Linked DNA regions of Homo sapiens. The protein of the gene in region 1 interacts with the protein of each later gene in a pairwise test. Each region holds a gene or a part of one and is shown on either strand. Other genes may lie near its edges. The genes, in order: ASAH1 and NR5A1.

The links.
Region 2: the proteins of ASAH1 (region 1) and NR5A1 interact in binary tests that used the Homo sapiens proteins (3 or more experiments, as listed by UniProt).

The regions. Positions count from the first base shown.
Region 1 is NC_000008.11:18,076,477-18,092,074, forward strand, and holds the start of ASAH1 (acid ceramidase isoform a preproprotein), read right to left. Parts: upstream 7,632-15,598; 5' UTR 7,583-7,631; coding exon 7,505-7,582; exon of another isoform or gene 7,441-7,504; intron 6,721-7,440; exon of another isoform or gene 6,646-6,720; intron 1-6,645. UniProt on the Homo sapiens protein: Lysosomal ceramidase that hydrolyzes sphingolipid ceramides into sphingosine and free fatty acids at acidic pH.
Region 2 is NC_000009.12:124,504,016-124,519,108, reverse strand, and holds the start of NR5A1 (steroidogenic factor 1), read left to right. Parts: upstream 1-11,709; 5' UTR 11,710-11,860; intron 11,861-15,093. UniProt on the Homo sapiens protein: Transcriptional activator. Essential for sexual differentiation and formation of the primary steroidogenic tissues. Binds to the Ad4 site found in the promoter region of steroidogenic P450 genes such as CYP11A, CYP11B and CYP21B.

The DNA.
Region 1 (15,598 bases):
CCTTCTCCTAAACTTATCAAAAAAAGTCCACACAGATTTATGATTCTTTTGTTACTCATTCAACATATCAAGTGTCTTTATCTCCTTTCCTCTGGAGAACCAGTTCTGTGAAAGTAAAATAATTGTTTTAAAAAAGTACAAATCCAAAATAAGATAAAGTAGAGTAGGTAAGAAAACTCTTGGAACTGTAGCTTGAGCTCAGAAAACTCTTGGAACTGTAGCTTGAGCTCAGAAAACTCCTGGAACTGTAGCTTGAGCTCAGAAAACTCCTGGAACTGTAGCTTGAGCACAGAAAATGTATCTGCTGGACAGCTGTGTAAGAATGGAGGTCTAGCACCTTGTTTTAACTTTTGATAACATGGGGAATATATAAAGTAGGTTGACATTACCTGTGATTCAAACATTAGCTGTCAAATTTGCCTTACCACACTGTAAGTTTCTCACATATGTCTGGCTTTGTCTGGTAATTTTGCGTTGAATTCATTAAGAAACAATATCAAGTCTGTAGCAAAAGCTAATTTCCAAAGCCATTCGTGTTCAGTAATAGTGGCTGGGGGCAGCTCGTTTAGAAAAACTTCAGTCTCAACTGTGAACTCAAAGACTGCAAAACTTTACAGCTAGCAAGCTATCTAATGGCTCTGTCACAAGAGACATCAGGATATCCGGCCTCTATTTCTGATAATTCACAGAAATGATGACGGTTATATCCACAAGAGCAAATGAAGCTCATGGTTTATATTGCCGGTTCAATAACACATGTGAGATTCCAATATTTTCCACAAAATATCTGAAAAGGAATACTATAATAAATAACCATGAGCTTTAAACACCTCGCATGTTCACAAGTTTTGTGAATTTGCTCAACTCCGCCTTTTTCTACTCACAAATATTTTTACTACTGTCAATTTTTATAGATCTTAGCAGATTCCATTCCAGGTTATACTCAATCATTATTTTCTCAGCTTCTTCGAAAACATCCTCGCCTGTAGTTGTTTTATACAGATGATTCAGAGGCTAACTCTTCAGTCACTTCAAACTTGGCAATGATCATCTAATAAATATCAACAACTGATCAGTTATCGGTATGTTGACAGTCAAGAAAAATCACTCAAAAATCACATGCTTTGTTCTTTAATTGATATTGATGTTCTTCCCAAAGTCCAGGACAAGGGTTCTCAATGACATGTAAAATAATTTCATTTTCCCTGGACACAATACTTCTGCTACTACAATCGAATACAATTTAGGTAATCCACCATTGGTAAATGGCTTTCCTTATTTTGCTAATAAATGAGCTACTTAGAGACTTATAGGGGTTGCAACTTAATTTTACTTTGTAAAATTTGTAAATAAGTTCTGCTGTGAGGAGATACTCCGCTTTACATTTTCTTGTTTATCTGACCATTGTTTTCCTATGAGTTGGGAATACTGTGATGGGTACTTAACCCAAGTGCTTAATTTTATGATCATGTTGTGGACTTAAGACCCTGCTCCATTAGTGACTTGTAGAAAGTTACACAGCTGGTGACAGAATCAGAGTCAATGGCTTTCCCTGTTCTATCAAACAGCTTCCCACAGAGATAATAAAACCAATGCCTCAATTTAATTCCTAACAGAATAATCTGCGCGTAGTTCAGGGCTTCTGGTGATCACTAGAATCAACTCGGCAAATTAAGTGAAACGTAATGACTCCTATCCCTTCCTAATAATGACATTTGCACGCCCTGGGTTCCAAAGCCAAAATAAACATCAAATTACAGGCACATTTCTTACTAGACAACTGTGAGCAAAGTTGAAAATGCTCTGTCTAGTATTAGGAGAGAATGTGACCTGCCCCAGAGGTAAGAACTAAAGAGCAAGCTAGCAACAATACATGTGGAGTGAGTCTGAGGTTGATAACGACTCTTGGTAGCAATAAACAAACGTGAAATTGGCATAGAACCTGGCTGCAAGGAAATAGGATAAGTGTGACAGAAAATAAGAAAGTTGGCAGCTATGAGACTACAGTATTTCAGGGGCTCACATGGCATGAACGCCTAAGTCGTTTATGCAAAAAGGTTAGTTTTAGGGGTAGGGTGGAAAAAAGAGCTACTTCCTCCCCCTCAAAAAAGAATTCTACAGGGAGACACAGCTTCAAAACCCACGAGTAGCCCTAAAACAGAATTATAATGAACTTACTTAATGTTATTTAAAGTTCCTTACTATCCCCAAGTTTATAAACAGTTTAATAACAGACAACTCTATTAAGGCAGGTAAAAACTTAAATAGATGATAGGTAAAGATTAGAAACAGATGATAAGAAGAGAGATTATGTGGTCTGGATGGTATACTATGTACACCCTATCACAGGAAACAAAATCCAACTTAGAATCAATTCTCTCTAACCCTCTCCCCACAGTACCTCTCTTTCTCTCTCTCTCCCTGCCCTTCCCTACCTTTCTCCCTGCCCCTCAGTGGTCTCCTAAGAGTGAAGATAAGTGGTAAAAATCTGATATTTCAATGCATTTGAAACTCTCTGGGCCAGGCATGGTGGCTCATGCCTGTAATTCCAGCACCTTGGGAGGCTGAGGTGGGTGGATCACCTGAGGTCAGGACTTCAAGACCAGCCTGGCCAACATGGCGAAATCCCCGTTACTACTAACAATGCAAAAATTAGCTGGGTGGCATGTGCCTGTAATCCTAGGTACTCGGAAGGCTGAGGTAGGAGAATTGCCTGAAGCCGGGAGGTGGAAGTTGCAGTGAGACGAGATAGTGTGACTGCACTCCAGCCTGGGAGACAGAGCAAGACTCCATCTCAGAAAAAAAAAAAAAACAAAAAACTCTCTGGAAAGTGCTTTTAAAAGACTGTTTGGGTCAGAAAATTCTCTAATTTTTCTGGTTATTTGATAGAAACTTAAGCCTCTTTGAATGTCCTCCCCATTCATTAAGAGAAATTAATTACAGAGCTACTGAACACAACATTCTAAAAAAAACACAAAAATATAAAGAGAACATTAAGGTCTCAATGAAAGCGCCATACCCTTAAAAAATGGCATAACTTGTACAGCTCCTTAAAATATTTGAGCCCGAAAGAATTAGGAGACCCTCAATGAAATAATGTATGCTTCTAATAGTGAATTTTAAAAGTCCAGAAAGCCCTTGTGTGCTTGTCTTATTGAAATACTCAGAAAGAGACAATGAAGGATAATCTAAAATTACATACCTCATGTCAGTTTTCATACCCACCAGAAGCCAAACAACTCTAGCCAGACAATTTTTCATTCATTCAATTCTTGAATTCATCAACAACTATTTTGCAGACAAGTTTTTCCTATAATGTCCTCTTATGTACAACTCAGCAGAAACACTGAATACAAAGAGGCATGTTTCCTACGTGTACAAGAATTCACATGAGCTTGAAAATGTTTTCACTTGTCTTCTGGGCTTTGATGGGATGGCATCCTATTAAGCTACTGATATTTAGGTCAAAGGAATGTGAATAAACCCTCCATGAGAGGAAGGACCTCATCTATCTCATTGGCTGACGCATTCCCAGCGTTTAGGAGTCTGGCACATAGTAGGCAAGCAGTATTTGTTGAATAAGTGAATGGATTACACCTGTGTGTTCCCTCTTTGGGAGAAGTAGGGAAAAGCAGATGAAGTGCAATAAATTCCTAGGCCAGATGGGGTCTATGAGATTTCTGGCAACTGCGTGAAAATCATTGCTAAAGCTGATTCAATAGCTAATGTCAACAATGTTGACATACGCTGTTAACTAGTATGAGAAGCTGATGCATAAAAATGAGTTTACAAGTTTACTTTGGCAATTAATTACTAAGCCATTACGTTTCATCTTCGCACATCTTATGAAGTGGGTCAGATTTATTACGCAGAGCAGCCATCTCTCCCCTCTAGTTCCTTTCCTGCCAATCACACTTAGCCTACCGCAAGCTGTTTTCTGCCCCCAACACTGCTCCAGTCGAGGTGACCAATGACCTCCAGTTGCCCAACATCATAATACCACTGACATCTCAATAATATTCAACATAGTTAACCTGTCCCAGTCTCTTCCCTGAGCTTCCTGTTCCACTTACTCTCCTATTTTTTTGTTTTTGTTTTCTGTGACGAAGTTTCGCTCATTGTCCAGGCTGGAGTGCAATGGCAGGATCTTGGCTCACTGCAACCTCTCCCTCCCAGGTTCAAGCAATTCTCCCGCCTCAGCCTCCTGAGTAGCTGGGACTACAGGCGTGAGCCACTATGCCCAGCTAATTTTTGTATTTTTAGTAGAGACAGGGTTTCTCCATGTTGGCCAGGCTAGTCTCAAACTCCTGACCTCACGTGATCTGCCCACCTTGGCCTCCCAAAGTGCTGGGATTACAGGCATGAGCCACCGCGCCCGGCCTGTCCTGTTTTAACTTTGGCAATTTCTCCTCTTCTTGACACATACATGTGCAAGTTACTTAGCCTTTGCCTAGTTCTCTTTTCTTCTCTTTCTCTATCCTATTTCTAGGTAAGTTCATCTGCTCCAAGGGCTTCAAATATAATATCATTATGCCAGTGACTCTCAGTGTCTCTCTTCTGAGTGCCAGTCCGAGTGGCCTGCTGGATGCCTCTCTGCCACCTGAAATTTAACATACACCCCAAATGAAAACGATCCTCATTCTTTAGCCCCCAAGCTTTCCCCTCCCCATGTTTCCTGGAACGGATGCCACCATTCGCCCAGCGAAGCACTTCAGCAATGTGCAGGTCACGCTGACACCTCACTCCCTCATCCTCACCCAACGATTCCTTCAGCTCATTCGCCCTCCTGATTTTTTTCTAGAACATCTACTTCTCTCCCTCACCCCTGGCGCCACCATCCTTCAACGCACCCTGTTTTCTTTTCTGGACTAGTCTCCTCATATCTACCCTTGCTGACCTCCAATCCAGACTCATCTTTTTAAAGTGAAAATGTTATCTTGTCTAAAACCATCTAATGGCCTCCCATTGGCTGGTTCCAGATCCTCCCATTTTTTAGGATAAATTTCTGAATCCTTAATAAGAGTCTACAGAACCCTGGATGATGTCATCTGGCGCTATCTCTCCAGACATTTCTTGTGCCACTGTCTTCACCATCATCTCTTAATAGACTCCTAAAAAATTCAATAATGAAGAATAACTCAGGAGGACCTTCACATAGGAATATTGTGAAAAGCCTCAAAAACAAACACACAAAAAATCCTTACAGATGTTCTAAATCAAATGACTTGTTTCCAATTTAAAGCTGCTTCTCATTATTCATATTTATTGAAAGTACTTTTGAAATATCTTTTGTTACCATGAGGCTATAGTTTATCATATAATGACTCCAGTTGAAAAACTGCTTATTCTTCTCAGAGAATGAAGTCACTAAACTTCTGTAAGGTTCTAAAGGTCCTTCAGTGCATGGATCCCAGGATTTTCCAGGCCAGTAAAAAAAAATTAATGAGGCCTTGGCACAGGAGGGTCCAAATTTTTATTCTGCCAAATGGAGATGTTAAAACAAAACAAATTCCATGCACATAACATCTACCTCTGCCGTTATTTTTAAGAACACGTTTGCAACAATGAAAACTTGAAGTCCATACAATCAGAGTAAAGATTAACATTCTAAATTAATAATTTTAGTTTTGCATTCTTATTTTTCCAGTTTCATTGAAAACCTGTGAAAACAGCTTCCCAAAGTGACACCAGTGGCCAGACTAGACTTTGATAATCGCTGTTCTAGATAAGAACTATTATATCCATTGAGAGGTTGTTAATTCTTCTTCTGAAAATAGCTATCAAAATACTTTTGCTAGAATAAATAAAGCTATTGAGAAAGAAGAAAAAACAGCCTCCAACACCTGAAACTGCTCTGAGTCCCACAGCTATCTCTCAATATTATTACAAGCCGATCTGACACTCACAGCCAGGTAAGCTCTGTTTTCCTCCTGGACATCAACAATCCCACAGATACCTACGTCGGATAAGATTATTCTGAGACATGACACACCAAGACAAAGCAATGCCACTTGAAGATTTTCTCTAAGAACAGACAAAAACAAGGGCACCTGCAACGCACAAAACACCAAACATCCCCTTCTCGTGCTAAACAGAATGGCTGTTCCTTCTTTACTCAGTCAGAATTGCCCCACCTTCTAACAGCATTCTATCTACAGCAAAGCCCGGTTCCTCAGTCTTACCCCAAATCATGCAACCGAAGTTCAAATTCTGTAATGGGTTTTTTTCTATAACCTACCGTCCGTCGCTCATGGTGTGTGGTCTCCTTTGCCTCAAAGAACACTAAACCCAATTTGTTCAGCTTATGGTGTGTTCCTGGTGGTCTTTCAATGAAGGGCCCTGACAGTATCAAAGTATCAAAGTCTCTCCCAATTCCCATAAAACCAACTACCGTCAAGCAAATTAATTCCCTACCCACAATGGAGCAATTTTATTTTAAGGCCTTTAATCGTGTCCACATACATGTTCTGTGTATTTTCCTATTACAGGAAAAACTGTATATACTATTCTGGATTCTACTTTTATCTGCTGAACATTATATCAATTTTAATGGCTAAATCATATCCCACCATGATTTTAAAGAATTTCTCCTTACAGGTATAAAAGAAGACAATGCACATCTTGCTTCCACTTTCAATAACCTACCTAAACTATTCAAGACCATCACCATCTAGCCTCAGGCCAGATGCGCCAGGTTCCTACTTATCCGATTCTGTTGGCAAAGACAAACGCAGTCTGATTGCTTTATAAAGAAATGAATTATGAAAGAGTACTGGGCGTCAAGAGGCTCGGACGTTACGCATGTTCAGTAAACAACAGTGTAACCTCTGGCTAAATATTTTCTCACTCTAGGTCTACTTCCTCTTCTGTAAAATGAAAGAGTCACGCTCGTCCCTCACTGTCTCTTGCAGTTAGGAAGTCCGTAGCCCTGTGACTTGCTCGTGGGAAAGAGCCACGGGACAGGCGATCCCATGACTTGGGTGCAAAAGGCCACAGGGGGCCCTTTGGGGCCTGCTCTGGGCTGCTCGCACCGCCCAAGCTTGGGACCACTCAGCGTTTCCCACGGCCCTGCAGTATCCTGGGCTGAACTCCTGAACTTCTTCGGGAGAAAGCACCTGACCATCAGGCAGTCTGTCCTTGATTGAGTAATGCACACAGGTCCACCGGAACATTTTATTTAAACACTTCAAAATGCAAGGGCCTGGAACTGGTTATTCAAGTACACTCACTCAAATCTAAGAATGTGCGAATCACACCCAGGTATCCTGCAGAGACTAGGATTTCCTTTAAAGGAGTTCTAGTTGCAGGTAGCACCGAATCTACCGAGGACGGGGTTCGCCAGCCCGCTCTGCACCCACACCCCTGTGCACGAAACCACAGACCCCCGTAAAGAAGCTGCCCAGCACGAGGTGTTCCTTGTACCCGCTCGCGCCGCCACACCTGCGCCTCCATCCGCGCCCGCACCTGCACGCCCCTCTCTGCGCCTCGGCTCAAGCTCACTCACCGGCGGCGCGTGCTGCGCGACGGCACAGCTGACGGCGGCAGCCAGGAGGACTAAGGCGACGCAACTCCGGCCCGGCATCGCTCTAGCAGCCAACGCCACTCCCCGGACTCCAGCAGAGGCAAAGAAGAGCCGGCTGGGCCGGGGGCAGGCCACGCCCCCTCCGCCGCGTGACCCGCGACCTGGGACCGCACCATTCCAGGCAGTAGGGGGAACGCTCGGAGGAGGCGGGACTGGGAGGAGAGGACGGGGCTTTTCAGTGCCACGAAAAGGGTGGCGTAGAGAAAGAGAGAGAGCCTTCCAGGCTACCTGCAGAAGGAGAGTCGCGATCGCCTTTGGCGCGTGGCGTGATCCATCCCCCTCCCCCACCGCGGGCAATAGTCGGACCGAGCCGGAGCCCCGCCCCGTAGGTGGGGCCGGGAGCTTCACCCGTGGCGCCTCGATGGGGCGCCTCTAGCAGGCGGGTGCAGCCTGTCCCGCGTACCCAGGCGTCCTCGGTACCCACGAAACGGATCCAAAGAGTCTCAACACTAATGTAACATCCCACCCTGACCCATCTTTGCCCTCTGAGAAAAGCGGCCCGAAATGAGTTGAGTTATTCATCCCCACCGCGGAGTCAGGGACAAGGAGCAGTTGAGTGGCCGAGGAGTGAGAGAGAATCGAATCCACTCGGGTCCTCCAAGCTGTTGGTTACCCACTTGGGCTTTCACAGCAAAGCTGCCAAATCCCAGAATTGAGGCCTCGGTGAAAAGCGCGCTGAGACTTGGGTAGGAGGCCCGGTGGGACCCGCGAGCTTTCTCTCCCAGCCCGATGCAGCAGTTCATTAAGCGGCTGTGTTTCCTCCTAACTGGCGAAGGACTCAGGTGGGCGGAGCAGAGCTCAGCTTGGGAGGAGGCGGACGCGAGTAGCTCGGCAGGGGGACTCGCTTGGCTTTCGTGCCATCCGTGGACACAGTCGCGCGGGTAGGTGACCGGGTTGGATTTCAAAGTCCAGCAGGAAATCCTGCCCTCTGGGTTGCACTTCCTGGATGAGCCTCTGACGTCTCAAGCAGCATTGTTTTAATGCTTTGATGAAGCTCAGCACGCTGCCGAAATCTCGGCAGTATTTTTTCTTTTCTTTTTGCATGTGAGAGAAAGGACAACAAATTGCAGTTTTATCCATTTGTATTATTTCTTTAGAAAACTCAACACTCTTTTTGTTGGAGGTGGGGAAATGAGAAGGTGATGTTTTGTTTTGCTTTTTTTCCTATTTTTTTTTTTTAAAGGAGGAGAAGATGACAGTGTTCTCCCTAAGGATGAAGTTTGACTTTTGAAACATATCACATGCTTAAAGCACATTTGAGCTCCTGCATGAACAGTAAGCTAGCAGATGGTAGAAATATTCTTTATTAATTCAAAAAATATTTACTGCGGACCTACAATGTGCCAAGCATGTCTCCTGACACTGGGGATAAGCAGTGAACAACAACAAAAAGACAAACTTCTTCCACCCTGAGGCGTATGTTCTCGGTGAGAAATGGGCAATAAACATAATACCTAAGAAAATTATACGGGATGTTAGTGACAAATGCAGTGGAGGAAAAGGGAGGCCAGGGGCATCAAGTGTGGAGATCAGAAGTGGTAGAGTTACAATTTTAAATAAGAGGGACAGATAGACATGATTAAGGAGGTGAAGTTTGAGCAGACAGTTGAGGGAGACCAGGAAGCTAGTTTTGTGTGTGCCCAAGTAAGAGTATTCTAGGCAGAGACAGCAGCTGTTAAAAGGCTTTAAATGGAGAATGTGCCTGGCATGTTCAATTACAGCAGACGTGTGTGGGTCTGGCACAGAAAGAACAAGGGGAAAAGAAGAAAGAAGTATTAATAGACAAAGTATTTAGTTAAGGAGAGCAGGGCAAATTCTGTAAGGCATTCAGAGCCATTTCACTCCGGAAAAAAAATGTGTAATATTGAATATACGTGTTAAATGTTGAATCTATGGAATTACCTTGGAGCTTAAAATGAGTGTGCGAAGAAGAGGATTCCCATCTTTTAGTTGTTATTACTAAATCAAATAGCTACTTGATTGGAAGATCATTCATCTTCAGTACTCTTGAGAGCGATTTAAACATGTCACCAAGCATATTTTTTTCCCTACTGGAGGATGTTAATTGGTGATTAGGTAGTCTAGCAAAATCAGATTCTTTATGGAAAAAATTTGTCAATTGACATACTATTCTTAGGCACCACTTTCGCAGAACTATGCGTCTAACTTTCAAAGGTCTATTATATATTATTAATACTCTTTTCAGATAAAATATAAATCTAGTTCCCTAAAATTAAACCATTTCATGCATGTCTTTTTTTTCTTACACATATATCTTTATTTTGCCTACACCATTCTTTAATACTAGAAATGTACAGAAAGTCAAGGCAAGGTGTGTGTAGGAGACTTTGCAGTGGTTTTTGGCATACTGATCTGTTCATAGAAAATGGTATTTAAATGTGCAAATGCATGATTATGTCCACGGAAAGGGTGGTTCATACTGCACAAAAGCATCAAGTTTAAGACTTGGATAACCTGTTTCGTGTGCAAGAGTCGGGATATGTAATCAGATTGTTTATGGAATAGCTGAAGTTCTTGGCAAGCTGTGGACTTCCTCATCTCCTACCTAACATTCCTAGGTTCCTGAGGTGGAGCCTTGATTTAAAAGGGTTGCAACTTAGCCACCCCACCCTAAATGAAACCTATCATGTATAACATCACATTACCTGGAACAGGTTTGACTTGATTTAGTAAAACCGAATATACAAAAACGTGTACTAAAAGGTCAAGAGATAGAGAAATAATGTTTCAGTTTGAGAAATAAACATTTTTTTAACTTTAAATATTGACTTTTTTATGAATAAGGAAGCTTTTTATTTTACAGGTCTTTGTGGGAAGAAACAAATCACAAAAGCAATTAAGAGAGCTCAAACAATGGGTAAGAAAGAGCACCTCAACAACTGTATTGAGCTAGCTGAAATTTTGCTCATTATGCTTTGTCAAGAACTTTAATTATCTCTTTACAGGGTTTATGCCAGTTACATACAAGGATCCTGCATATTTCAGGGACCCTAAAGTTTATAACATCAGATATCCGGAATAAATTCCATCACATTACCACCAGTAAACTTATTTTATAGTAAGTGGTTGTATGACGCCAATACTGACTCAAACCAACCTTTGGATAGAAAAGTGTTTCAGGAGTGAGGTAAAGAATGACACTTCCCCTTCATACCAATCAGTGTTCATTAAGCAGATCGCTTATTTAAAATGTTAACACTCATCACATTTTACATATGTTGAATGAAAGTGGTTCTGGGTGATAGTCATTTATATCTGGTCCACAAATAGCTCATACAATGTAGTACACCATTCAACTGAATGGAGTTAAAACTGCTCAGAATGGTTTTCTAACTAGCAAATGTAAGTATGCCTGGTTAAGAGATCTTCCCTTTGTAGGAATGTTACACTGGGATGCATAGTGATGCTGTCACAGCAGGACAAAACATTCCTAGACAACTCTATCCTCAAACCAGTAGTGTCTTTTACATAAAAAGATGATTTACACCTAATAGACAGTGAATGTGATAGACATGTATGTATATATGTATCAGTTCTGAGTTCCACCAGCCTATCCCAAACACACTGGATTACCAGGCTTGTACTGTACTCAAAATTAAGGATTTGCTAAATTTCGTGCAAAGGACTCTAAACTAGGGGAGAGATTATTGTTTGTGTTGCGTTATAGTTGTGTAATAATTAAGGCTGCCAGATTTAGCAAGTACAAATGTAGGACAAATTTAAATTTTAGATCATGTTTTGCAAAGGTACTGCGTGAGATCCAGCATTTTATCTGGCAACACTAGCTGTAATGTACTTCTAAAAAATTATCACCTAAGGATAATTTTAATGACTCAGATAAATTTCATATAAATTTCTTTCCACATTGTGAAAATAAGGCTATTCTAGCTTTTCTAATACTTTTTTTTTTTTTTTAATAGAGATGGGTCTCACTGTGTTGCCCAGGCTGGTCTCTAACTCCTGGCCTCAATCATTCCTGCCTTGTCTTCCCTAAGTGCTGGGATTACAGCTGTGAGCCACTGTGCCTGGCCTCACTTTTCCAATTCTAAAGAATGTGTGTAAGCCTTTCCCTCAACAACTTATTGAAAGGCGAAAAAAGGTTTGGAAATAAAAGGATCTGATGTTTGAAAAAGTACTTTGTAAAATAAATGCACTAAGACTTATCTGTGGATTACTGCAAAGAGGTGAATATAGTAAAAACAAATGAACTTACCTGTATTACTGCAAGTAGCTCAACCTAGTAAAAACAATGGAAATGTTTGACTTTACCCATCAGCCAAATTAAAAAAATCTCCTTTTAAGGTTAAAAGGATCAAAATGTAGGTGACCGTGAATATTCACCAAAACCTTCATCTTTTCAATCTCTTCATCTGTTTCTGGGCTGCTCATTTTGGATGCTTTTTTATTGGTTACTACTATCAGTATCTGTTTTAGATGGTTTGTCTTGTGTGTCTAACAGCCGTGAACACTCTTTTTTTTTTTTTTTTTTCTCCTGAGTCGAAGTATTCCTCTGTAGCCCAGGCTGGAGTGCAGTGGCAGGATCTCAGCTCACTGCAAGCTCCGCCTTCTGGGTTCACACCATTCTCCTGCCTCAGCCTCCCAAGCAGCTGGGACTACAGGCACCTGCCACCACGCCGGGCTAATTTTTTGTATTTTAATAGAGACAGGGTTTCACCATGTTAGCCAGGATGGTCTCTGTCTCCTGACCTCCTGATCCGCCCACCTTGGCCTCCCAAAGTGCTGGGATTATAGTCGTGAGCCACCGCGCCCAGCCAATTTTTTTGTATTAGAGATGGGGTTTCACTGTGTTAGCCAGGATGGTCTCGATCTCCTGACCTCGTGATCCGTCCGCCGTCATCTCTTGAACTGCCATCTGTCAGCTAAGTCTAAGGTTTTATGCTTAACCATTTGTGGTGTACTAGCTGGACTAGCTTCAGGAATGTCAGTGTTTTCTACCATTAAGGTCAGATTGTCTACTACATCGAGATGGTGGTGGTTGTTAGAGCTACCTTTAGAAACATGTCTGTTTTTTTAAAGACATAACACATGCATGAAGAATTCAGAATCTGGAAAAAAGGTCCATAATGTTTGACAAAGAAAAATGTTCTCCTGAGGGTCTTTTTTGGATGCTCTTCTCTCGTTCTGCTGGAATCTGGGCTCATCTCCTTTTTTCAATTTCTCGTTTTAATCTGTTTACATCCTTTACTAGTTTATCTACTGCTTGTTCACTGTCTTCCACTTTTTTGCATATACTCTTTAATTTCTCTTACAATGAAGCATACATTTCATTTATCTTATGTACCTCCTTTAAGGATCCATCTTCTTCAAAAAATTTAGAGCTGTGTGTTTGTACTGCTCGGCTAAAACCAGTGGACATACAGGAACCTGATACAGTTTTATAACCTAGTTGTTCAGACATGCCCAGATTGGCAACCACTGAAGGTACCCTGTGAAAAAGTCCTTTTCGAGGTTTATATAAGGCATGTTCCAGTCGATGAGTAGAGCGGCTTTCTGTTATTATACTTGGTGTTCATAGCAGAAAAACCAGGTCTTGGTTTGAAAAATGCTCCTGCAAGTTTTTGTGAAGCAGCCTCTCTCTAAATGTCATGATCTGATCTGAATGACGATGGAATTTGTAACAACCTACCACATTTTTTGTGAATTTGATAATATTTTCCTCAGTGCCTGCTTATTTACTTCACCTGAAGAATTATAAAAACTAAAAAACTGATAGCATGGAATATATTTCTGAATGTCAATTGTATAAACAACTTCAGCATCATCTATTTGGGAATCAGTAATGCTATTCTTTTTTTTTTTTTTTTGAGATGGAGTCTAGCTCTGTCACCCAAGTTGGAGTGAGGTGGCCCGATCTTGGCTCACTGCAACCTCTGCCTCCCGGATTCAAGCAATTTTCCTGCCTCAGCCTCCCAAGTAGCTGGGATTACAGGCGCCCACCACCATGCCCAGCTAATTTTTTGTATTTTTAGTAGAGACGAGGTTTCACCATGTCAGCCAGGCTGGTCTCGAACTCCTGACCTCAGGTGATCCACCCGCCTCAGCCTCCCAAAGTGCTGGGGTTACAGGCGTGAGCCACCATGCTTGGCCTTGTCTTCTCCCTTCTAATATGAAAGAGGAAGCTAGGAATCCCCATTGCTGCTGGCATGCATGCTATAAACCTGAAGGGAGCCACCTAAGATGAAATTGATACTGTGGACTACACAGTAGAAAGATGGAAAGAAACTGGGTCATTGATGACATTGTCAAGATGCTAGATCAACCAACCACAGATCCTGTCCAACAACTGGACTCTTGATTTACATCAGCCACTACTCTGTTATTGAATCTTGGACAAGTTGGTTTGCTTACAAGTTAAATTATTGTATCTGAGAGCATCCTAACTGATACACACATGAAAATAGACATTTCTCCTTTGTTGAGAAGGATGTACAACAAATCTATGAACTTTAAGTTTTAGTACCTTCACTTGCTCATGCCCCTTCCCAACCTTTTACTAAATTTTATGCTTGTAATTTTGTATTCTTTTCCTTAAGGAGGACCACTTAAATTGCATAAGATTCAGGTGTCACCAAACCTGGATCTAGCATCAGATGTTGTTGGAAGAAAATGTCCACCTTTCTCTGCCGTCTCCTCCATTCATGTCTCCCTAGGGAAGGAGAGATGTATGATGTATCTAATCAGTAAATAGTTGAAAAGGTCACAGAACGTGCGTGGCCTGGCCTCTCTTCTGGCGCTTTCATTCAGATCTGCCTCCCCACAGTAGTAGATATGCCTGCCCACACTGGTAATTCTACTGCAGCAAGCCTTGAATGACAACAGTGGACGTGAAAGTAGTTGCTGCCTTTGACCACATCTTCCCAAAGTGGCACGTCACCAACAGACTTTAAAATCATGACGTTATAACGTAATGGCTGTGAAGATTTGGAAGAAAGCACTCTAAAATGAGAGCTCTGAGAGATGTAGAGAGAAGGCAGTCAAGGAATAGCGCCTATAAGCACCTCCTGCACATCCGGTCCCTGCGCCTCCATCCTCACCCTGCCCTCAGCTCACTCCCCTCCTGTTAGAAATTGGCTGTGCCCCTGAAAAGTCATTTGCATTTGCCTAAAGACTGAGTACACAAGCTCATTCCAAAGTAGAAGGTGTTGAAGTTCCATTTTGGCCTCAGGTCAAAATTGTTTTCTCTATTTCAGCTTAATGAGCAAGAAAGCAGAATCTAATATGTGTATATTTCTAACGCCTGTGTATATTTCTCAACTGTTTCCCAGCTCAGAAAGGTGAGGAGTATGACAGTCACCCTGAAATGACAACAGAAGCCAACAATAACAATTATAGTAATAATGTGTGTATAGAAAGTACTAAATGACCATTAAATGAAGAGCAGATTACTAGGTGCTATGGAAGATACACATGCAGTGAAATACAAATTCCAGATCTCAGGGAGTTTGCAACCGAAAAAGAATATAACACTAATATATATACAAGGGGACTTCAAAACGTTCACCTGCACCCTCCACCTCCCAGGTTCAAAGATGGAGTTAAAGGATAAAAAGTATAAACTTTATTTCTTTTTTTTTTTTTTTTTGTGAGATGGAGTCTCCCTCTGTCGCCCAGGCTGGAGTGCAGTGGTGCAATCTCGGCTCACTGCAAGCTCCCCCTCCCAGGTTCACGCCATTCTCCTGCCTCAGCCTCCTGTCATAAGCACCATCAAGGTCAAGACACTTTTGTCAGGGATGATACCAGCCATTTAGTCCATCCTTAAAAAAAAGAGGGTCCTGGGAATTTAACCATGTCAATGCAGTCTTTATTAACTGAAGAAAAATGGGTGCCCTTTACAGATTTTTTAAGATTAGGAAACAAAAAGAAGTCAGAAAGATTTCCTGTGGAAGCTCTTGCAAAATTGCCCTTGTTTGATGAGAGGAATGGGCAGGAGCATTGTCATGGTGAAGAAGGACTCTCTGGTGAATCTCCTGGGCA
Region 2 (15,093 bases), on another chromosome or scaffold:
TAAAATCCTGGGCTCTGAGCTAGGTGCATTGCTCTGTTACCCATTTCCTACATTTGTTTGTTTGTTCTTGATTTCCTGGGGGAATGGGACTGATGGAGACAGACAAACCCACTGTGGGCAGCATCTAAGCCATGTCCAAGGTTGGTCGAATTAAGGGAACCCTGGCCTCTCAGCAGGACAGAAAGCTGAGCTGTGGTTCCAGGCCCTCCTCTCTGGGCCCCTGGTGTGTATCTTTTTTCCTTGTTGCTTTTGAAATTTTTGCAATTATTTTAAGAATCCAGTCTTTCAGACCAGCCCTTTTATTAAGCTTTGAATTTTTAATTGATTTTTTTAAAGTAAAAAAAAAAAAAACCCAAAAAACAAACAAAATTTAACAAAAAAATCCGCTACTCTTACTCCCCTGCCTCCCCCTACCCCAGCCCATGAGAGTTCCCTTGCACTCCCCTCTGCCTTTGCAACTGATCATCCTCCCTTTCTCCTTGGCTTGAAGCATCTATGTCCAGTATCTGTGAAATGATGTTTTATCTGTGTGTCAGGATGAGAAACGGCAGTCATTCCACCAAGTGTTGGAAACTGGTTAGCCTGGAGACAAGGGTTTCTGGGGCCACAGCTCAGGGATGTGTATTTAATTACAGGATCCCCAGAAACTCCTCTCTAGGCTGCCACAGCAACATTTTTTCTGGGCTTGGGAGCCATACCTGAACTGTTTCCTCCAAGGCGGGAACTCCAGAGAGCCTGCCAAGTCTGGAGCAAGCTGGGGCTTCTGCTTTGGCCAGACCTGGGCCACCATGAGACTTGAAGGCTTCTAGCTGTCCTACGACACGAGCCACGGTGGCCCTGCCTCTCCCCGCTCATAGAAGCCTGGTCCCTCTGTCTAGCCCAGTTCCCATCTAGCATCCGTCTTCTGGGCCTGAAGCCCTAAATGGACCACAGCCTGCACAGGAATCAACTGTAGGCTCAAAGGGAGGCGGTGAGTAAGGTCAGAGCCTGCTCCAAGCCCAAGAACAAAAGTTGTGTTATGGGTGGAGGCTAGTCCCCCAGATCTAGCCCTGCCGTCTTTGCCCTTTAATGACCATTGTTTTCTTTCTCTAAAATGTCTTGTAATAGGTGATAATGTTGTTGATTCAAATTTCCATGAAAAAGAAAAAAAAAACTACCTCTTAAGCGACATCCTGGTCGATTCCTCTCTGAGGAATCCTGTGGGAAAAGAATACTGTAGCTCCTGCTCTGTTTACATGTTTCTGTCGGGAAAGAAGCCCCGCCTGCCCTGGGGTGTTGGTGTTTTTGTCTGTGTTGCCATCCCAGGTCTGCCATAGGGGCTGGTGGCTGCATTGTGATGTCTGGGCTGTGTCTGGGGATTCCTTCCCACCTACCCAGCCAGGGACTAGTCACCCCCCTGAAGAGGCCTCCATTTCCTTCCTGTGCTCCAGGGCATAGGGAGCACCACTCCCACAGACACCACCTTTAAGGGCTCTAGTGGCACACACATCCACGAGCCTACCCCCAGGTTACCTGCCCTAGGTCCACCTCCACCCACAGTCCTGTGTGTAGGAATCGAGGAAACGGGATGTCCCTGAGCCCTTGTCTCCAAAGGGCCGGCCAAGGGCTGCCCGCCAGCCTGACTCCATCAACCCTCCATGACCAAATGATAGCTGGCGGGCTCTGCAGGCTACCCAGGCCCTCTGCTACCTCCCACCCTGCCAGCTGGCAAGGGATGGGCCCTGTTCTGTGAATTGACTACCTGTGGAAATGTGACCAATTAGTGTGAAATGCATGTTTAGCAAGTGTTAGGTACTGTATTTGAACCAATAAATGTGAATCCTTCTGCACATGGCATCTGTCTGTGAAGCTTGTCTGGGGTTCTGGGGAGGGATGATGGCGTGTCCTGAGGCGCCGGCTTGTGCCTTCAGACCTGTGTCTCTTGCTCATAGCTGACACCCACCTCAATTCTGTTGCTGAGGCTCTGGCAGAAGGTGGTGTCTCGGAACTGCCTGAATCAATGAACCAGCACTGACTGAAGTGCCCAACTTGTGTGCCAGGCACCATATTGAACTTCAAGGATTATTCTGTTTTATAAGTGAAGAAACTACAGTTGAGTGAGGTGAAAAGACTCTCCCAAGGTGAGTGGCACAACCAGAGAAGTGAGCCTAGTGGAGAGGCAGATACAGACTTTTGCAGTGCAGGGGGGATGAGGTTGTCATTAGGGATGTATGTGGGGTTGTAAGGGCCTGGAGAAGGAGTGGCTTGTTCTATGGAGGATAGTCAGGAAGAGCTTCACAGATGAGTGTTGTTGAAGGTGGCCCTTGAAGAAAGTCACGAGGCAAAGGGATCCACAGGTAGGCCAGGTAGAGGGATCCATGTCCAAAGGCCTGGCTGTGTATCAGAAAGATGGGAGTGTTCAGGTAAAACAAGGGACTGTCATGGCAAGAATGATGGCAGGTGGGAGGGATTAGCAAGAGTTGAGGCTGGAGAAGCAGTTGGGAGCCTTGGATGCCACATTCAAGAGTGTGGGGAAAGAAAGCTGTTTGCTGAGTCTTGGGCAAGAGAGCAGCATCATAGTGCATGAGAGGCCAATGGATGGCCTAGGATGCACTGTGCTCTAGCAAAGTAATACTGTCTTTCCAGAAAATAGGTGAGGTCTATTAATAGCTTTTCTAGAGCTGAAAAAATGGAGGCTCTAAGAGATCAAGGGATGTGGCCCAAATCACACAGGAGTGTTAAGTTTGTACTTGAACTCAGATCTGCCCAACTGTCCTGTAGGCCTGCTCATATGATCAGAGAAGTGGCAGAGTTTGGGTTGAGGGGTGTATGAAGACAGATGGGAGAGATGAAGGCTTCTCAGGCTGGGAAGATAAAGGCTGAGGAGGGTTTGATCAAAGTCTATTAATCCTCTTGTGTGAAATGAGGGAAGCCCAGCTGCCTTCCCATTCCTCAGCCTCCAGCACAAGAAACCAGAGAGCCCTTGAGTTTTGAAAGAGATGGGTTTAGAACAAAGCAAATGCTGCAGAACGAATTAATAGACTGTCTTCCTTGCCCCCACAAGAGGGAACAGATACACAGAGGTGCCGGGAGGAGAAGGGACGCATTGGCCCACCGCCTCGTGAGTCCAGGCGCCGTAATTGGTGCTTCACGCATGTCGTCTCAGTAATCTTCATAACAGCCTTGCAAGGGGTAGGTCTCAGCCCCATTTTTCTAATAAGCAAATTGAGGCTCAAGGAAGTTAAGCCTTTTGCTTCAGATGACACATTAGTCAGTGGCAGAATTGGCTTTTGAATCCAGGTCTATCTGATACTAAAGTTACAACTGGCTTCCTCCCTGCTCAGCCTTAGCAATTCAGTAGTGCTGAATGTGGATATCCAGAGTTTGTAGCAAAGCTCAGTAATGGCCTTTGGGTGAACCTTTTGCCATAGAAACAAAAAAATAAAAAACATTAATAAAGGATTAATTCTGTAAGAGGTGGATGAACAGACCCAACCAAAGTGAGCTGAAAAGCGGTGCTGCCCAGTCATGTGGAATACTGCAGGCGCTACATTGGTATGGCTTCCCAGAGCTCAGGAACCTCCCCCCCACCCCACCCCACCCCCAGAGATGGTTCCATGGAAGAAGCCTGAATTCTGTTGCCAAAAATATGGGAAGTGCTGCACTCGCTCTATCATCCTCATTGATTCTCAGCCCTTACTGGCATATTAAAGTCTCGAGAAGTCCCACCTGAAGAAAACTAATGTTGTTTAACCCAGGTTCTACCAAAAGCATTTGAGCATTGGACATTTTTGCCTCCTGTTAAAATTCTGTTGGGATAATATTCCATGGAATAAAAGGACACTGCTCTAAATACATAAATTGCTGCTTATGTGACACTGAGCTTTCAGTTTCCTGGGTGCCAGCCAATAATATGGAGGAATAATAAAGTAACATCTAGAAAACAAAGCAAAGCTCTGTGCTGAGTATTTTGTGTGCATTAGAGTACTACTGATTCCCCAGAGCAACCCGGTGAGGTTAATGCTATAATGATCCCATATTACAGATAAGAAAACAGAGGCCCAGAAAGGGTAAGTCATTTGCTTGAGGTTACATAACTGGCAAGATGTCAGGAATGAATATAAACCAGCATCGATTGAGCACCTACTATTCGGCAGGATCTGTGCTGTGATTCTTATCCTTGTGCAAACCCTCAGAGGTACGTAAGACCATCTGCATACCTGAAGAAACAGGGAAGGCTGGCTACTCCGAATTAAGTCAGAGTCTGAAGACAGAAGCCCCTGGAAATGATGGCAGGGGAAAGTGCTGGGATGAGGTTGAGTCTGACTACACAGAGCTCTTTCCAGGGGTCGTTTCCTTCAAGCAGTCTATGAGACAGCAGGCACGTCAACCAGAGATCTCACCACCTGAGTTCTCATTCCAGCTCTTGCCCTTCCTGGTTGTATGTGACCTTGACCCAGACAGATGCTTCTCTGATCCTCACTTTCCCTGTCAGACAAATGGAGGTGCTGGTACCTGTGTCCTGGGGGACAGGGGGCAGTGTTAAGGAAGATTGAGTGTGGCTGGCTTAAAGTTGGGTCTCAGTGAAGTCAATACATGAAAGGAGGCTAGGTACGGGGAGCTGTCGCCCCTACACCCCAAGAGCAGAAACTTAGCAGAGCCAGGAGCCTTGGCCTGGCTGCCCATCAGGGTTTTAGGTCCACAGTGGTAATCAGTCTCTCAGATCCTATGGCAAAAGTGCCCAACTGCCAGACCCGGGGCTCTTGGAGTCTTGTTCCCTTGGCAACAAGTCTCACCATGGAGACCACAGCCCCATCCTTGCCCTCCCTGCATGCTGCCTCTCCACAAACCCTTGTTCAACACCCAGTCCTAGGAGCAGTGTAGGTACTGAGGAGTGCTTCCAGGAGGCACTTCCTCAGGTGAGTTGGAGGCAAAAGGAACTCCCATTTTTTGAGTGTCCACTTTATGTGTGGCAAGGTCCATAGGCATCAGCTACATACGTGGTCTCGTTCAGGTTAAAAGCCACGTGCTCACCCTGTTTTCCGTAAGTGGAAACTGAGGCTCAGGGAGGCAACATGGACCAGCCCAAAGTCTCACGGCTAGTCGGTGTTGGAGCTGAGACCTGAATCCAGGGCTTCTGACTCAGGAACCCATGCTTTTTCTGCAACTCCCCATTCCCACCCATGTTACCAAGACAAAGCCTCCAGCCACAATCTGAGGAGGGCTGGGTACCCGGGCCTCTGCCAGCAGCACGAGCAGCCAGCCAGCAGCCCTCTGAGGTCTGGGCTGGGCCCAGCACCATTACAGGAGGAACTGTACTATTTTAAGCCAGGGCCAGAGGGCCCCTTGTGGGCACAGGGAGGGTAGCCTGGGGCCCTTGGCCAGCTTCCCGGAAGTCCCCATGGCCTCCCTTTTCTCCCGCTAGCAGGTTTGTGAGGCAGTGACTTCCCTACAAACAGGAAGGAGGCTCTCAGGCTGGGAGACCTCCAGCCCCAGCTTCCTCCCCATTGCTGCCACCCCCAGGCTTCTCCACTACATGGGGGAGCCCTCCAGCACCAGGCCCTATCAGTGTCCATCATCCAGGCTGACTCCTAGCAGTGGGTGGGAGGGGGCCTGAATTTGGGCTCCCTGGGCTGCCCCAGCTCACCCACTACAGTTCCAAGGTCTCTGCTTTCTGAAGCCCTTTGTCCCTCACCCAAGCCCGAGTTCTCATAGACATTCCCACTCAGCTGGCCACTGTGAGCTAGAAAGAAAAGTGTCAGTATCCTTAGATGTGGCCCCATTCAAGGACCCCAGAGAGAGAAAAGAAAAACAGACTAGGCGGCTGAAAATAGCAGAGAGAAACAAATTAGAACATGATTAAGATACCGACAGTGACAGATTCATCGTGACAGAGATGAAAGCAGAGACAAGCGAAGAGACACCAGAGATGGCTGTGCAGGGCTGGAGCCGAGAGCAGGGGGTGGTGCAGCATGATGGCTTCTGACCACCCTCCAAGCACAGGCCCTGTCTCGGGGCTGTGGGGGCGCCCACCGGCTGCGTGGCTGAAGTGGAATGTGGGGAGCAAGGCTGGGTCACCCCTTGAGGGCCAAGCGTGTGCACCGAGAGATAAGCTACCCCAGGCTGGGGGCCCCAGCTGCACTGCACGCTCCAGGAGCCTGGTGGAGAGGCCAGACCCAAGGCTGGAGCCCAGCTCTGCCAGATGCCACCTTCTGCACCTCCTACGGGGGCTCCCCCAGGCCTCATGTTCTAAGGGTCCCAGGTCCTCTGCCCAGCCCTTGGGGCAGCAGGTTCTGGGTGCATCCAGTTCACAGAAGAGCAGTGTGGGCCCTAGGAATAGTACCAGCCACAAAGAGGCTCCTATCTTGCTTCTCCAGTGCGGGCTGCAGTCCTGGGTCAGGAGAGAGGTCGGGGGGGTAGGGGCCCTAAGCTGAACACGCAGAGCAGGGGCTCTAGCAGGCTGTGGGGTGCTGAGGAGAGCTGTGGGGGCGCAGCTCTTCACTCTGTGAGCTGTCCCCATGTGGCACTGTGCACTCATGTGCCTGAGTGTGTGTCCATGTGCTTTCTCGAATGTGCAAAGATGTATGTGTCCACGTGTTGCCAGGAGCCCCAATCTGCCTCCACAAGTCCCTGCTCTCAGTCTAGAGAACTGGCCCCAGGGGCACCTGGCCTTTCCCATCCCCACGAGGTGGTCCAGCCCAGAGAGCCACCAGGCAGAGGGGGAAGAGCGAGCAGGTCTATTGCAGGCCCCTAGCCCCCCTCCCCACACTGCAGCTGAGGCTCCCGCTGGCCACGGCCTTGACCCAGCACTATGGACTTCTCTGACATTGGCATCGGATCTGAACATCTGGCAGCAGGCTGATAAGGGGTGCAGCGGAAACAGCCTCTGCTGCCGCCAGCAGGCCCGCCCCCTCCGCTGCCCTGCACGGGGTCTCCACATCCACCCTCCCTCCACCTCCAGCTCTCCAGGCCTCGGCCCTTCCCGCTTCTCGTTCTCTGCCTCAGTCTCTCTCTCTCCGTCTGAATCTCTCTCATCCCTACTCTCTCTCTCTTCCTCATTTCTTCTCGCTCTCATTTCTTCTCTCCCCAACCCTCACCACTCTGAATTTCTCTGTCATCCTCCCTCCCTCCGACTGCGTCTCCCCTTTCTCTCTGTGTTCATATTTTCTGCCCAAGCCTCTGCAGCTTCTCTCTCTTTTTCTGGCCACCTTTCCACTCTGCAGCCTGATGATTCTGTCCCTCTCTCTGTTTCAGTTTCTGGGCCTCTGGTTTGTTTGTTCCTTATCCCACCTCCAGGAAATGGGCCTGGCACTTTGGGAAAGTCCCCAGTTAGGAGAGAGACCCTGGGCTTTGTTTGCCTGGGGAGGGAGGTTGGGGGCGCCTGAGTCAGGACTACAGCCCTCCTTTGCTTTCCCCTCTGGGTAGGTCTAGTGGCCTGGGACCACCAGGGCTAGAGCTTGAAGGAAAGGACAGGCCACCCAGGGGCTCTGGCAGGGTGGAGAGGAGTCAGCCTGCAGGCCTGGGCTCTGGACTCCACTGCTGGGATTTGAACGCTGGTCCCATCACACCCTCGCCTGGTGACTTTGGGAAGATGCCTGGTCTCTCTAAGCCTGACTTTCCTCCTCTCTTAACTGCTGCTATCGGGGGTTGAGAGGGAATTACTACCTACCTCCCAGAATGCCGGAGAGGTTCGAGACTGACTGCAGGTGTGGAGTGGTTAGCTGGGGACCTGGCACATAGGGGGGCACTTCTGAGTTGGGGCCTTGCCATTCCCAGCACGCTGGTAACCCCTGGCTGCCCCTGTCCCCATAGAGCACCCACTTTGGCTGAGGGTGGGAGGGGGCAGCACAGAGGAAGGGGGTACCAGTGACTGTGGCCAGGGTTGGTTAGGGGATGAGGAGCACCCAGCCTTGAGTGACAACTGATGCCGTCAGAGGAGACAGGACCCATGGAGCAGGCAGCAGAGCTCTACCTACAAGTGCGGAGGAAAGTGGTCATTCAGCAAGTTCCAACGCTTGCTCCACGCAGGCTGCTGTGGACCCAGAGATAAATCAGGCCTTTCCTGGAGGCTTCCCCAGGCTGAGGTGAGGCGCTCATCACAGAAGGGCAAACGGTGTCCATGATGATGTTGCAATCTCATACTCAACAGGGAAAGGGCCTCTGAGGACAGATCATCCAGTCCTTCAGCTGGTTGTTTGTTTGTGTTTTGCTGACACTTATTGAGCACACATGACATACCAGCCAGCCACTGAATACATTACACGTATTGTCTCCTTTCATCCCCATTTTATAGAGAAGAGAGAAGGCCCAGAGAGGGGAAGTGACTGGTCCCAGGTCACACAGCTAGAAAGTGGTAGAACTGGGATTTAATCCAGAGACTCTGCCAGCAATTCTCCTTCTCAGGGCTCAAGGACTCACCAGGAGACTAGGACAAAGCCAGGCTGGTTCCTTCTATGGCGTCATGGTGTGGAGAGAGACCTGTTTGTCTTGTTTAAGAAGGCGGACAAAGCAGACCCCACTTCATAAGGTCGCCTATTAAATGAGGTGCAAAGATTCATGATTTTGTTATTGTTACATGTATGTGACATGTTAGTGGTGGGTATTTGCTGGGATATGTGTGTGTGTGTGTGTGTGTGTATATATATATATATATATATATATATATATATATATATTTTTTTTTTTTTTTTTTTTTTTTTTTTTTTTGAGACAGAGTCTTGCTCTGTTGCCAGCCTGGAGTGCAGTGGTGCAATCTTGGCTCACTGCAAGCTCCGCCTCCTGGGTTCACGCCATTCTCCTGCCTCAGCCTCTGGAGTAGCTGGGACTACAGGCGCCCGCCACCAGGCCCAGCTGATTTTTGTATTTTTAGTAGAGACGGGGTCTCACCGTGTTAGCCAGGATGGCCTCGATCTCCTGACCTCCTGATCCGCCCGCCTCGGCCTCCCAAAGTGCTGGAATTACAGGCGTGAGCCACTGCGCCTGGACTTGCTGGGATATTTCTTATTAAATTCAGAGGGTGAGTGATATTAGTCCAGAAACAAAATCATTGCATTAAAATAGGGACACTAGGCTAGGTGCGGTGGCTCACACCTGTAATCCCAGCACTTGGGGAGGCTGAGGTGGGTGGATCACCTGAGGTCAGGAGTTTGAGACCAGTGCGGCCAAAATGATGAAACCCTGTCTCTACTAAAAATACAAAAATTAGCCGGGTGCGGTGGCGGGTGCCTGTAATCCCAGCTACTTGGGAGGCTGAGACAGGAGAATTGCTTGAACCCAGGAGGCGGAGGTTGCAGTGAGCTGAAATTGTGCCACTGCACTCCAGCCTGGGCAACAAAGTGAGACTCCATCTCAAAAAAAAAAAAAAAAAAAAAAAATAGGGACACTAAGGCCAGGTGCTGTGGCTTACGCCTGTAATCTCAGCACTTTGGGAGGCCGAGGCGGCCGATTTCTTGAGCCCAGGAGTTCAAGACTAGCCTGGGCAGCATGGCGAAACCCCATCTCTACAAAAGAAAATACAAAACTTAGCCAGGTGTGGTGGCATGTGCCTGTAGTCTCAGCTATTCAGGAGACTGAGGGAGGAGGATTGCTTGAGCCCAGGAGGTCGAGGCTACAGTGAGCTATGATGGTACCACTGCACTCCAGTCTGAGTAACAGAGCAAGACCCTGTCTCAAAAGACATAAAACAAAATAGGGACACTAAAAAAAGAATATTAAAATAGGGAGACTAGTTAGGTTCAGCCATATGCAAGAGAAGTATATCTTGTAAGAACTTCTCTAGGTGAAAAAGACATAATTACAAGGTCATGCACATTGAGGAATAAGTTGTCTGTTACGTTGTAGGTGGAATATATTCGATCAGTTAGCTATGACTGTTGGTGAAATTATATTATAAAAATTATTATTATTGAATTAATGATTATTAATTATTAAAACCCTATTGCCCGGGCTAGAGTGCAGTGGCACAATCATAGCTCACTGCAGCTCCAACTCCTGGGTTCAAACCATCCTCCTGCCTCAGCCTCCCGAGTAGCCGGGACTACAGTCTATCAGTATTATTGTTGTATGTTCACACACAATTTTAAGTGGCATAATGAGGAAAACACACACTAGGTTTTATTTTATTTTATTTTATTTTATTTTATTTTATTTTATTTTATTTGAGACGGAGTCTCACTCTGTCGCCCAGGCTGGACTGCAGTAGCACAATCTTGGCTCACTGCAACCTCTGCCTCCCAGGTTCAAGCGATCCTCCTGCCTCAGCTTCCCAAGTAGCTGGGACTACAGGCACAAGCCACCACACCAGGTGAATTTTTCTATTTTTTAGTAGAGATGGCGTTTTGCCATGTTGGCCAGGCTTGTCTTGAACTTCTTGACCTCAGGTGATCCGCCCACCTTGGCCTCCCAAAGTGCTGGGATTACAGGCATGAGCCACAGTGACTGGCTGGAAAACACATAGGTTTTAAATATAGTTGGCGTTTCTACTTTTTCAGTGGCCTTCCATGAAAAAATATATATAGGGAGAGTTGGCTTCACTTCACTTATCCAGAAAAGTCCCTCTTGTTCCAGATAAGTGAGGTGTTGGGTGTGATTTATTTATTTCCTCCAATGAAGGGATATGTGGGAGGAGGGGTGGTTCTCAACAGTGACTGCCCCATAGTCACCCTGTGCCCCTCCCTGCTCTCCCAAGATGAAAGGCACGGAGGTAAATCCTCTGAGGACAGAGACTTTTCTTCTCTTTCCTATGGGATCCCTGGTGCCTGGAACAGTGCCTGACCCCTAAGTGTGCGCTCAGTAAATGTGAGACAAACAGAGGAACACACAAAAGATCCAGTCACCGTGGGAGCGGCACAACACCCTGCAACCCGGGCCCTACAGGAACAGGATATTTCAGAGCCCATCTGGGCCCAGAGATTGGATGGGGACGTCCCAGGTTGTCTAGGGAGGCCTAGCCTTCTAGATAAGGGCCCCTTCCTGCTACCCTGTCCTATCCTGGACTAGCTTCATACTTGGTTCAACCTGGGGCCACTATAGCCACCACTTGGCCTCAGAGGCAGTCTCAGCCCAGCCTCAGTTTTTCCAGCCATCGACTGGGAACATCAGCAGCCCACAGCAGATGAGGACATTCAGAGGCCACCGTGGCATGCACGCACCAGGTGTCCAGGCCGCTCACCTGCTCCCCTTCCGGCCCCCCTCTTCTTCCACCTGATGGAAGAGGAAAAAGAGGTGGAAGCAGCAGGCCGCCTAGTCAAGTCGCCATGGCCTTGCCTCCGCACTGGCCTGTCCTGACTCTACTCCAATGTCCGGGCTGGGCCAGACCATGCCAGGCCAGGCCCCAGGGAGGTAGCCATTCACAAGGAGAGAGGAGCAGGCGGCAGGCCGGGTGGGGGAGCAGCCCATAAATCAAGCCCCACTCCCACCCGGTTTCTAACAAGCGGGGCTGCCTACCCGCCTCTGTGGGGTCCCTGCCTCTGGGCTCCCACAGCGGGCCTGGAACAGCCAGCTGGCCAAGGCCTCTGCAGTGCCTTGGCCTCCGCCCCCACCCTCAGCCCCCAGATAGATAGGGGTATTTTTTTTCTTTTAGGAGAAGAAGAAAAAATAGACGTAAATGAAGAGAAACACCAACAAAGAAGGCGAGAGGCCTGCAGAGTCACGTGGGGGCAGAGACCAATTGGGCCTCCGGTGGCCCCCCCACCAGGGCGGGGAGGAGGAGGAGGACGGACGGACAGGGCCAGCCTGCTGTCCGGCTGCCGCCCGCCGTGGTGTGAGGGGGTTTCTGCGCACCCACAGTCGCCACCGTCCCACCTGGGCTGCCGGAGCCTCCCCCTGGACCCCTGGTGCCCACTGCCACCCTCATCCGGTGTGAGAGCGCTGCTTCCGCTTCGTAAGTGAGGGCCTTGGCCCAGGCCTCTAATGGCCAGCCTCCTTCTGCAGTGCCTCCCTGCAGCCTGGGCCGGCCACTGCCTGCTCCACTTAGTGACCGGTGCCCCCTGCTCTGGGCAGGGAAGGTGCCAGGGGTCTCCCAGACTCACCCTCCCACCATGCTACCCCCTCTTCTTCCCTGGGCTGCCGATGGGAGGAGCCAGGCCTGTGACCACAAGCCCCATGGAGGTCCGCTGGTGTCCCGCTGTCTCTGGCCAGGCATCCACCAGGCTGTGTGGGTCTGAGCCTAGAGGTCTGTGAGTGTGTCTGGAGGGCTCTGGGCCTGTCTTGGGGCTCTGTCCCCCACCTGAGTTTCTGTGTTGTCTCTGTGGCTCTCTCTGAGTCTTGCTGTGTATCCGTGTGTCTGTCTCCGGCATCCATCTGTCAGCCTGGGTTCTGCGGCCGGGCCAGGTCTAGGCTTCCCTCCCTGGGTGGGTGGATGAGGGGCTGGAACTCCCCAGGCGGTGGGCTGGAACCTGGAACCTGTGGGGGTGGGTGCCTCGGAGCCTGGAGTGCAGAGGAGCCATGGGCTTCCAGCCGGTGAGAGTAGAAACCCTTGGGGAGAGGGGATTGGAGATAGAGGGAGAAGGGCCTGAGCCCAGCCCCCACCCAACCCCGGCGGCTGGGGCCTGTGTGTCCAGCTCCAGGTTTCCAGGAGACCTCGGGTGAGCTCTACCTTAGAACAGCCAACTGGGGCACCCCAGCCCATCATCCACCAACCCCCTTCCCTCCTGCAGTCACTGTCTGAGGGCTCCATTGTGGTGGGGAGCTGTTCAGAGGCGGCAGTGACCCCCACCTCCAGCTCGGGCAGATGCTCTTGTTTCTCAGGGGTTTGGGGGTGCGGGGGGTACGATTAACAGGGTCTCTGGCTCTTTCTTCCCTCCTCATCCAAGATTCTTGCATGGAAACCGCAGTACCCCATCTGTAAAGCCAACATGTTCCACTTTATGCTCGGAGAAAACTGAGGCTCTCGTTTCAGAGAGGAGAAGTGACTTGCCCGAGCTTGCACAGCTAGTCTGCGGGTTCTGCTCCTTCTGTGGGTGAGCCAGCTGAGTGCGGTCTGCGCGGGGGGTTCTCTGGCCACAACTTGCAGGCCCCAGGCCCAGCTCCAACCGAAGCCCGAGGCCTCCAGGCGGGCGGGAGCCCAGATGGAGCCTTTTGGTGGGTTGCGCCGCTGTCAATGCAAAATTGCGGTATTTTCCTGCTTGAAGATCGCAGCTTTTTGGCCTCATGGTCCCCAAACTCTCTCTGACCCCAGGTGCCAGCGGGGGCGGAGGCAGGATGCAAGCAGGCCCCTTCCTTTCGGGTCCGTTTCTCCAGCTGAAAAACAGTGGCCCCGCGGATGGTCCCTAGCCCAGAGCAACTGCTTGGCCCATAGGCCCGGGAACCCCTTTGTCCCCAAGACCGCCCAGCGCTTTCTTCCTCGCCCCACCCCCCCGTGAGAGCTCCGAGGGGAGCAGCGGGGCCCTGCCTCCGGGCTCCTCTCCCAGCTCCTGCGCCCGTAGAGGCTTCGGGTCCCCCCAGGCCTCGGACATTTGTAAAATGGGATTTCCACGAGTCCCATTTCCAGCCCAGCGACCTGAGGCTAGCGAGCAGAAGGGGTTCGCCCCAGATCTCCCCAGAGGGGCGCCACTGAGCGCTTCCGCCAGGCCACACGCGTGCTTTGCCCCTACTGCTTGGGTTCATCCTCACGACCCACCCTTAGCGAGGAAGAGCGGTCATCTACCCACTTCACAGATGCGGCAACTGAAGACCCGAGACGGGGAGAGAGCTGCTACAGGCTCGAGTGAGGAGATGTGGTGGGCCCCATGGGAGAATCTGGCTTCCACCCGTGAATCCGAGCCTCGGCCACGGTCGCCACTCGCCCTTACCCACTTCCACGCTGTAGTGCGACCAGCCACCCGCGTGGCATTCGCCACGACCCAGCTGGGTTCACAGACAGGAGCTGCCTCCTCCCACTGCAGGCGGGTGACCCAAGGCCCCCACTGCCCTATACCTGCCCAGATCGCGGGGCACTCGGGCTCCGCAGCTCTCTGGCCGCGCTCGGGGTCCGGGGAGCCGGGCTGCGGCTGGGGGGCCTGGAGGATGAGGGCGAAGACTCGAGCTGGACTGCGGAGAGGGTGCCGGCGCGGGCCGGGCTTGGGGGGAGGACACGACCGGGCCTCCGCCCCCGGATACCGCACGCGCCGATATAGAGGGGCCGGCCCCCGGCCCCGGCGCGGCGGGTTGGCGCAGGGCGGGGTGGCGGCTGAGGGGCCCGGGTCCCAGGTGCGCCTCGGAGCGGCCCCGGCGGCGGTGCGGGGGGGAACAGGGAGGCAGGATGGGGGGCGGGGAGGCGGGAGGGGGGAGCCGAGGCCCCCGCGCCGCCAGCCCCGCGCCCCCGCCTCCCCGTCCCCGGCCCGAGCGGCCGTCATCGCGGGCGGGCGGCGCTGCGCCCGGGTGCGGCTCCTCGCCGGCGGCGGCGGCGCGGCCGAGAGGTGCGGGCTCCGCGCGGGCGGGACGCGGGGCGCTGCTCGCAGGAGCGACCAGGTGGGCGCCGGGCCGACCGCAGCCGCCGTCGCGCCCCCTCTCGCGTCCCGGGCCCTGGCTCTTCGCGCTTCCCTCCTCCGGACTTCGCCTCTCCGCCCGAGGTCGCTCCCTCGCCTCGGGCTCGGCTTCCCGGAGCCCGCCGACCCCCGCCCGAGGTCTCCCCGCCCGACGTCCCGGTGGCAGCGGCGGCTCGGGCTGCGCCTCCCGTTGCCGTCGCTGCTGCGGCTTTGTCTCCCCCGGGGAGGGGGTCCCGGCGGCTCTGCGTTTTCGGGCTCTCGGTCCCGGCGCCGTCGTTTTCCGCCTCCTGCGGCCCGGGCCCCCGTCTGGGTCCGACCCTGCGGGGCCTCGCCTTGGCGCTTGGGCTCCTGCCCGGCAGGTTTCCGCGCGTCCCCTGTCCCCGACCCTCGGGCTGGGCGCTTCCGCCTCCAGGTTTTCTCTCCGTGTTTCTGTAGCTCCCCGGCCTCGTCTCTCCGGGGCTCCTCTCGTCTCGGCGTCTCTGTCTGTCGTCTATCGTTGTGTCTCTGGCTCTGCGTCAGTCTCTCTTGGGTTTTCTCTTCGGGCCTCCGCTGTCTCTCCGAGTCTCTGATCCAATCCCCCACCCCTCGTTTCTCTCTCTCTCTCTCTCTCTCGTCTCTCTCTCTCTCTCTCTCTCTCTCTGTCTCCCTG